3 separate regions of the Homo sapiens genome follow, and all the other regions are linked to region 2. The links come from fine-mapping of genetic effects on gene expression. A gene starts in region 2. Each other region holds a variant in brackets. All regions are shown on one strand. Distances are between the middles of the regions. Region 1 overlaps GLIPR1L2 (GLIPR1 like 2). Region 2 holds the start of CAPS2 (calcyphosine 2). Region 3 has its middle 15 kb from the start of GLIPR1.

Region 1 (2,773 bases), 87 kb after region 2:
TGTCAATATTTTAAGGTCAGTGGTGCCTTATAATATAATTATGGAAGTAAAATTCATCATATTCACTCTCCTGAGAATTATGCATGGCATGTACCTGAGGAGTGGAGGATCTTGTGATTCATCTTAGAATTCTGCCTACCATAGAATGGAAATGGTGAGGAAAGGTCAGTTTCTGGGTATATTATGAAGGTGGAGCTAATAATACAAGCCGATTGGCTTGAGTTTAGGGATAAATTGAATAAAATAATCAAGCAACACTATGCCTATGTGTTTAGTCTAAAAAACTGGGTGGATGGTGATTTCATTAACTTAGAGAAGATCAAAAGATATGTTTTCTATTTGGGTATATTAGATAGAAAAATAAATGTAGGAAATGTGAATGAATCATGAGAAGCAGATAGCCATATGAAAGTATGTGGTTGTTTTCTAAGTAGACGAAGCTTCTGGTATAAAGGCCCTGAAGTGGAAGTCACAGTGAATTAGATCAGCATGTGGGAGAGTGAATATGGAGACAATTTAAGAACTAAGTCCTGGGGCACTACGCTATTTTAAACTAAGGCAAAAGAGCTAGTAAAGGAGAATGAAGAGAGGTTAATGAGGTATGAGGGAAACCAAAAACCTGCTGGTAAGGTACTTGGAAGTCAAGTGAAGAACATGAGCTAAGAAGCCCAAACTGGTTAACTCTATGAGACGCTGCTGAGAGAATGAGAAATTGAGGAAGGAGAACTGACAGTTCCATTAGATGAGATGAAGGTATTTGGTGACCTTAATAAGAATAGTGAGTACAGGGGTCTCAGATGACTACAGTGATAAGATGAAGCTACCAGTTGTTGAAATTACCCTTTTTTTCTTGCTACTCTCTTATTGCACAAGCTTCTTTGTCTTGAAATTTGTTAACCATTTTTCCTTTGATACAAATATTGGCAAGTCTACCTTGAAGGATCTAGATTGGAACAGTTATCAGTCAACTCAGTCCAATTCTTATTTGATTATGTACCTAAAATAGGCAATCACATTATCTCTCTTAAGGATAGTTGGTAGAAAAATCAATCCATTACAATATTATAAAATACTGGGTAGAAATGAATGTAAAATAACAAAATTGAAAATTAAAAGGTATAGTGGGATGAATGGTGCCCCCCCTACCAACGTTATGTTTAGGTCCTAATTTCCAGAACCTGTCAATATTACTTAAATGGCAAAAGTGTGAATATTACCTAATATGGCAAAGATGTGGTTAATATAAGGATCTTGAGAGGAGCTTATTCTAGATTATTTGGGTGAGGGCTAAATGCAATCACATGTATACTTGTAAGAGATGGAGAGG[A/G]GGATTCAGCATAAGACACACAGAAGAGGAGGCAGTGTGACCACAGCAGAAGCAGCTACAGTGATGCATCCACAAGCCAAGGAGCTAAGGCCACCAGAAGCTGGAAAAATCAAGGAACAGATTCTTAAGAGCCTTTGAAGGGAACACAGCCCTGCCAACACCTTGATTTTGGACTTTGGGCCTCCAGAACAGTGAGAGAATAAATTAATGTTGTTTTAGCCACCGAATTTGTGGTAATTTGTTAATATAGTTACAGAAAATTAATGCAGAATGGAAGAATAAAACAGACTTGGCCATGCATACTGAAAATAACAAGTCAAAGCAACCTTGAAAATTTTTCTCAGAAACACAAAGGTGAAGAATAGAGGTCAAAATATATATGAAAAAATAAAGGAAATATGTATGGCATATAAATCTACAAATTGGTGTTTCTAAAGAATAGAGAAGAGCCAAGGAAAGAGAAATAATAAAGAAAAGAAAATGTTCCTAATCTACAAAGATATCTGTATAAAGATTAGAATACTTTATAATGTATCAGAAAAAAACTGAAACTATATTACATATAATTATTTACTAGTCCTTATTTTTCATTTTCAAAGATAAAAACTCACACATTTTAAGTACAATTTTAAAAAGTAAAATAAAACAATATTAATTCGATTACTCTAAAACTTAAATATTAGAAAGGACACAAGGATGACCATAAGAATTTATGCTTCATTGATAGGTAATGTTATTAACTGACCTAGGAAAATATATAGAGTGGAGGGAAAATAACTTTTATTTTTAGGCATGTTGGATCTGCAGTTGACTACAAGACCTTTCATTTAGTTAAATATAATTTTGTTGTAAGTGTGCCAAAGACATTGCACATTACATTTTATGTAATGTAATTTATAAATATTTCCGCTTATTGTGTTATATAGATGAGGGTCAATAAGTAGATCCAAATCCATATGTAATGATTGTGATAAAGTTGGCGTTTAAAATCACTGGTTAAAGTATTTAAGTAATGGAATTAGGAGAGCCTACTGGCTGGATAAAAGTAAAACTGAGTTTTTCACTCATCTTAGAGGATTAAATTTCTAATACATAAAAGACTTAAACATTAAAAAGTGAAGTCATGAAAGCTATATTAGTGAATTTACTTACAATTTGGAAGGTATAAGGACTTACCTATCAGAACATTAAAGTCCAGAAACTATAAAGGAACACATGTATGAATCTGAGTATAGAAAAAATTATTTATTAAATAGAGAATCCTTTCCCCATTGCTTGTTTATGTCAGGTTTTTCAAATATCAGATGGTTGTAGATATGTGGCGTTATTCCTGAGGCCTCTGTTCTGTCCCATTGTAGTAATAGTTTGAAGTCGGGTAACGTGATGCCTCCAGCTTTGTTCTTTTTGCTTAGGATTGTCTTGGCTATTCGGGCTCTTTTTAGTTCC
Region 2 (2,773 bases):
ACATGTATACATTTTACACATATTCTTAGATTCCTTTCTCTGCATCTAACTGTAACATAATCACAATGCCAACATACAAATTCTGTCTTCAATTAGATAAGATGTTTAAAGCATTGCATTATAGCTATTAGTCTTTAATGCTAGACTGTAAGCCTCATATTTGCTCACCCTATGTCTCAGGATTTAGAAAGCCCACAATGTAGTAGGAACTTAACAAATGTTTGTTAAATAAGTGAAGTCAGTCAATTCGGAATGACAAAACACAAAAGTGGTTAACTTAGATATAGTAAGAGTATTCAAAGGGCAATGCCGTCATACATGGAACACTTTCGGATCTATGGAATTAGAGCAGTCAGGCAACTGACACCCTATGTAGATAATTTTAAGATTTTGACAGGGCTTCAAAGACAAAAACAGCTCAACCTTCTGATCTTCAAACCGAGCCAGCTGAGATCCAGAAAAGTGAACTGTACTTCGCTAAATGTTTGCCAGTTATTGCAGACCCGAATTCACACGTGGGTTTCAGATCTCTTTTCAGTACTACATCCTCACTGGTAAAGGTAATAGAAGAATTCGAGGGGAATGAGCTGTAGGGACTAAAAAATTAGAAACCTAAACTTGGTGGCACAAGAATCAGCAAACAACTGGCTGTGAGTGAATCTTTGAAACCTATGCCAAGGGTTGTCTTTGTCATTAAGCACTGAATATCCAGCTGGGCTATGTTGGAGATAGGGAGTAGCAAAAGGAAGGGAAAGCACTTCTAAATGGCTTCTGTCCCCACTTAAATGGCTGCATGTCATGAGATGATATTGCTAGCATATAATAAATACTGTTGGCTAATGTCTTTAGTGCTACCAAAAATAACTGAACACACTTCCCATTTCCCTCATTTTTTTTTAAGGATGACTATTTCCACTTCCAATTATTATCACTTCTCTCGGTAGTAATATTACTGGCTATTATGTTACTTATATCAAATCAGAAAAAAATGAAAAGCAAAAAATAAACTGATTTAATTCAGCCCATAAATAAGAAAAAAAGAAAGAGATGTAAATACAATTTAGTATTTAAGCTACATGAAGGTAGGGACCAAGTCTATGTTGATCCCAGACGACTACAGACCCAGATATCTGAATTGAAACTTAGGTCATTCCTAATTTCAAGCAAAACAGGGTAATATCTCCTTTCACCCCATCACTCCCCCTGCTCCCAAATTATATTATAATTCAGAGCACCTGCAGTGTAGCAGAAGGAATTCCCCATCCCCTACCTAACTGGGATTCCTGGACAGGACAGGCGAGGGGCACAAGAGACAGTCAGCCTGATTTCACCTAACAAGCTCGGTAAGAAGAGGTCCAGAGTTAGAAGAGTTGGAAAAGGTATAAACTAGCGCGATTCCTCCAAAAACCGCATTCAGAAAGCTTTAGACAGGACAGTCTAGACAGTCCAGGCCCGCGTCTGCAGGTTGCCCGGCAACAGGCGCCGCAGCGCAGGGCTTCTGATTACACTCTGACCTCCAGGGACGAAAAGGTCGTCGGCCCAAGTCCCTTGTTCGTTCTACGCCACCTCCCGCCCCCGCCAATCTGCCTCCTCAGTTCCGCTGCCTGGCTGACCGGAACTGAGCTTGTGGCCGGAGACCCCGCCACGCTCTCAGAAGTACTTGCTGGCTGGAAAACCCAAAGGGGTGAAACCTCAGCTACAGCCGCCGCAGCCTCCCAGGGAACCGGCTCCGCGGCGCCCCTAAACCCCGGCGAGGAGCCGGAGCGGACTCACTCACCCGCGCTTCTCCTGAGCAGGGAAAGGGCCAAAGCCCGGCCCGGATCCACGGCGGTTGTTGTGTAATTCTTTGTCTAATTGAATTCTGTTTAACATATTTCATAAGGCACCTGTCTGTGCACAGAGCCCAGAATGACGTTTTGAGGAGAAGAAATTTAAGCATATGCTACAATATCTGCTCTCAAGGAGCTTGCACTTATTTTTTTTAAAGACTGTAATATATTATATAGAGATACATAGATATTAGACATGGATATTACTTTAAATTTGTGTGACTATGTACATATAGATGATTACATGAATAATTGCATATATATGTATGTGTATTTGTGTGTGTATATATAATTAAAATTTAAAATGATGTGTGGAAAGGGCAAAGGCCTAGAAATCAAGAAACCTGCATTTTATTCTTTGCCTTTTTTTTTTTTTGAGACGGAGTTTCCTTCTTGTTGCCCAGGCTGGAGTGCAATGGCACAATCTCGACTCACTGCAACCTCTGCCTCCCAGGTTCAAGCGATTCTCCTGCCCCAGCCTCCCAAGTAGTTGGGATTACATGCGCCCACCACCACGCCCGGTTAATATTTTGTATCTTTATATAGAGGGGGTTTCACCATGTTGGGCAGGCTGGTCTCGAACTCCTGACCTCAGGTGATACCCTGCCTCAGACTCCCAGAGTGCTGTGATTTACAGGCATGAGCCACCATGCCCGGCCTAAATATTTTTATGTATGCTCTGTACACAATATCTTGGCATCAACTCCTCATCTATAAAGGGAAAAAGCTGGTTTGAGATAATTCCAAGGATCCACTCCACTCTAATATGCACTAACTTTCCTAAATTACACAGCCAAGAGTCAGATATTCAAATTAGAAGTAAGAGTTTATGAAAGTTAATCCAGTTCTTTCATAATCATGTTTTTCTAATCTGCAGTAACTTTTCAAAATTAGCTCCCCTCAGAATGTATGTATCAAAACGTGAATATTTCCAGTATTTCCTG
Region 3 (2,773 bases), 140 kb after region 2:
AGGAATTTATCAGTTTCTTCTAGATTTTCTAGTTTATTTGTGTAGAGGTCTTTATAGTACACTCCAATGGTAGTTTGTATTTCTGTAGGATCAGTGGTGATATTCCCTTTGTCATTTTTTATTGTGTCTATTTGATTCTTCTCTCTTACCTTCATTAGTCTAGCTAGCAGTCTATCTATTTTGTTAATATTTGCATAAAAACAGCTCCTGGATTTACTGCTTTTTGATGGGTTTTCGTGTCTCTATCTCCTTCAGTTCTGCTCTGATCTTAGTTATTTCTTGTCTTCTGCTAGCTTTTGAATTTGTTTGCTCTTGCTTCTTTAGTTCTTTTGATTGTGATGTGAGGGTGTTGATTTCAGATCTTTTCAGCTTTCTGATGTGGACATTTAGTGCTATGAATTTCCCTCTTAACACTGCTTTAGCTGTGTCCCATAGATTCTGGTATGTTGTCTCTTTGTATTCATTGGTTTCAAATAACTTCATTATTTCTGCCTTAATTTCATTATTTACCAAGTTATCATTCAGGAGCAGGTTGTTCAATTTCCATGTAGTTGTGTAGTTTTTAGTGAGTTTATTAATTCTGAGTTCTAATTTGATTGCACTGTGGTCTGAGAGACTGTTATGATTTCCGTTCTTTTGTGTTTGCTGAGGGGTGTTTTACTTCCAGTTATGTGGTCAATTTCAGAGTAGGTGCCATGTGGCACTGAGAAGAATGTATATTCTGTTGTTTTGGGGTGGAGAGTCCTGCAGATATCTATCAGGTCCACTTGATCCAGAGCTGAGTTCACCTTCTGGGTATCTTTGTTAATTTTCTGTCTCGTTGATCTGTGTAATATTGACAGCGGGGTGTTAAAGTCTCCCACTATTATTTTGTGGGAGTCTATCTTTTTGTAGGTCTCTAAGAACTTGTTTTATGAATCTGGGTGCTCCTTGTTGGGTGCATATACATTTAGCATAGTTAGCTCTTCTTGTTGCATTGATCCCTTTTCCATTATGTAATCCCTTGTCTTTTTTTTATCTTTCTTGGTTTAAAGTCTGTATTAT[C/T]AGAGACTAGGATTGCAACCCTGCTTTGTTCTGTTTTCCATTTGCTTGGTAAATATTCCTCCATCCCTTTATTTTGGGCCTGTGTGTGTCTTTGCATGTGAGATGTGTCTCCTGAATACAGCACACTGATGGGTCTTGACTCGTTATCCAATTTCTCAGTCTTTGTCTTTTAGTTGAGGCATTTAGCCCATTTACATTTAAGGTTAATATTATGTGTGAATTTGATCCTGTCATTATGATGCTAGCTGATTATTTTGCTCATTAGTTGATGCAGTTTCTTCACAGTGTCATTGATCCTTTATATTTTGGTATGTTTTTGCAGTGGGTGGTACTGGTTTTTTCTTTCCATATTTAGTGCTTCCTTCAGGAGCTCTTGTATGGCAGGCCTGGTGGTGACAAAATCCCATAGCATTTGCCTGTCTGGAAAGGATTTTATTTCTCCTTCATTTATAAAGCTTAGTTTGGCTGGATATGAAATTCTGGGTTGAAAATTCTTTTCTTTAAGAATGTTGAATATTGGCCCCACTCTTTTCTGGCTTGTAGGGCTTCTGCAGAGAAATCCACTGTTAGTCTGATGGGCTTCCCTTTGTAGGTGACCTGACCTTTCTCTCTGGCTGCCCTTAACATTTTTCTCTTCATTTCAAACTTGGAGAATCTGATGATTATGTGTGTTGGGGTTGCTCTTCTCGAAGAGTATCTTAGTCGTGTGTTCTGTATTTCCTGAATTTGAGTGTTGGTCTGTCTTGCTAGGCTGGGGACGTTCTCCTGGATAATATCCTGAAGTGTGTTTTCCAACTTGCTTCCATGCTCCCCGTCACTTTCCAGTACACCAGTCAATTGTAGGTTTGGTCTTTTCACGTAGTCCCATATTTCTTGGCGGCTTTGTTCATTTCTTTTCATTCTTTTTTGTCTAATCTTGTCTTCATGCCTTATTTCAGTAAGGTGATCTTCAATCTCTAATAGCCTTTCTTCCGCTTGATCAATTCAACTATTGATACTTGTGTATGCTTCATGAAGTTCTCATGCTGTGTTTTTCAGCTCCATCAGGTCATTTATGTTCCTCTCTAAACTGGTTATTCTAGTTAGCAGTTCCTGTAACTTTTTATCAAGGTTCTTAGCTTCCTTGCATTGGGTTAGAACATGCTTCTTTAGCTCAGAGGAGTTTGTTATTACCCACCTTCTGAAGCCTACTTCTTTCAATTCATCAATCTCATTCTCCATCCAGTTTTGTGCCCTTGCTGGAGAGGAGTTGCGATCATTTGGATGAGAAGAGGCATTCTGATTTTTGGAATTTTCAGCATTTTTCACTGGTTTTTCCTCATCTTCGTGGATTTATCTACCTTTGATCTTTGAGGATGATGATCTTTGGTTGGGGTTTCTGTGTGGGGGTCTTTTTTATTGATATTGATGTTATTGCTTTCTGTTTGTTAGCTTTTCTTCTAACAGTCAGGCCCCTCTTCTTCATGTCTGCTGCACTTTGCTGGAGGTCCACTCCAGACCCTATCCGTGTGGGTATCACCAGTGGAGGCTGCAGAACAGCAAAGATTGCTGCCTGCTCTTTCACCTGGAAGCTTTGTCCCAGTGGGGTACCAGCCTGATGCCAGCCAGAGCTCTCCTGTATGAAATGTCTGTCAACCCCTGTTGGGAGGTGTCTCCCAGTCAGGAGGCACGGGGGTCAGGGACCCACTTGAAGGGGCAGTCTGTTCCTTAGAGCTGGCGCACTGTGCTG

Evidence for each region. PIP is the estimated chance that this variant, and not a neighbour inherited with it, causes the effect.
Region 1: its variant is the best candidate, but not a certain one, in a credible set for the expression of CAPS2 in whole blood (INTERVAL, PIP 0.74).
Region 3: its variant is the best candidate, but not a certain one, in a credible set for the expression of CAPS2 in ileum (GTEx, PIP 0.79).

Annotation. Positions count from the first base shown.
Region 1 is chr12:75,415,904-75,418,676 of GRCh38, forward strand. All of the region lies in intron 3 of GLIPR1L2 (GLIPR1 like 2), which reads left to right. Among named protein-coding and RNA genes, the nearest start is that of GLIPR1L2, 26 kb to the left of the region's middle. The variant A/G (reference allele first, on the strand shown) is at 1,328.
Region 2 is chr12:75,328,597-75,331,369 of GRCh38, forward strand. It overlaps CAPS2 (calcyphosine 2), which reads right to left and starts at 1,728. Exons shown (of 17, transcript NM_001355024.4): 1 at 1,271-1,728. RefSeq lists an enhancer at 1,635-1,684.
Region 3 is chr12:75,463,871-75,466,643 of GRCh38, forward strand. No RefSeq gene overlaps it. Among named protein-coding and RNA genes, the nearest start is that of GLIPR1, 15 kb to the right of the region's middle. The variant C/T (reference allele first, on the strand shown) is at 1,045.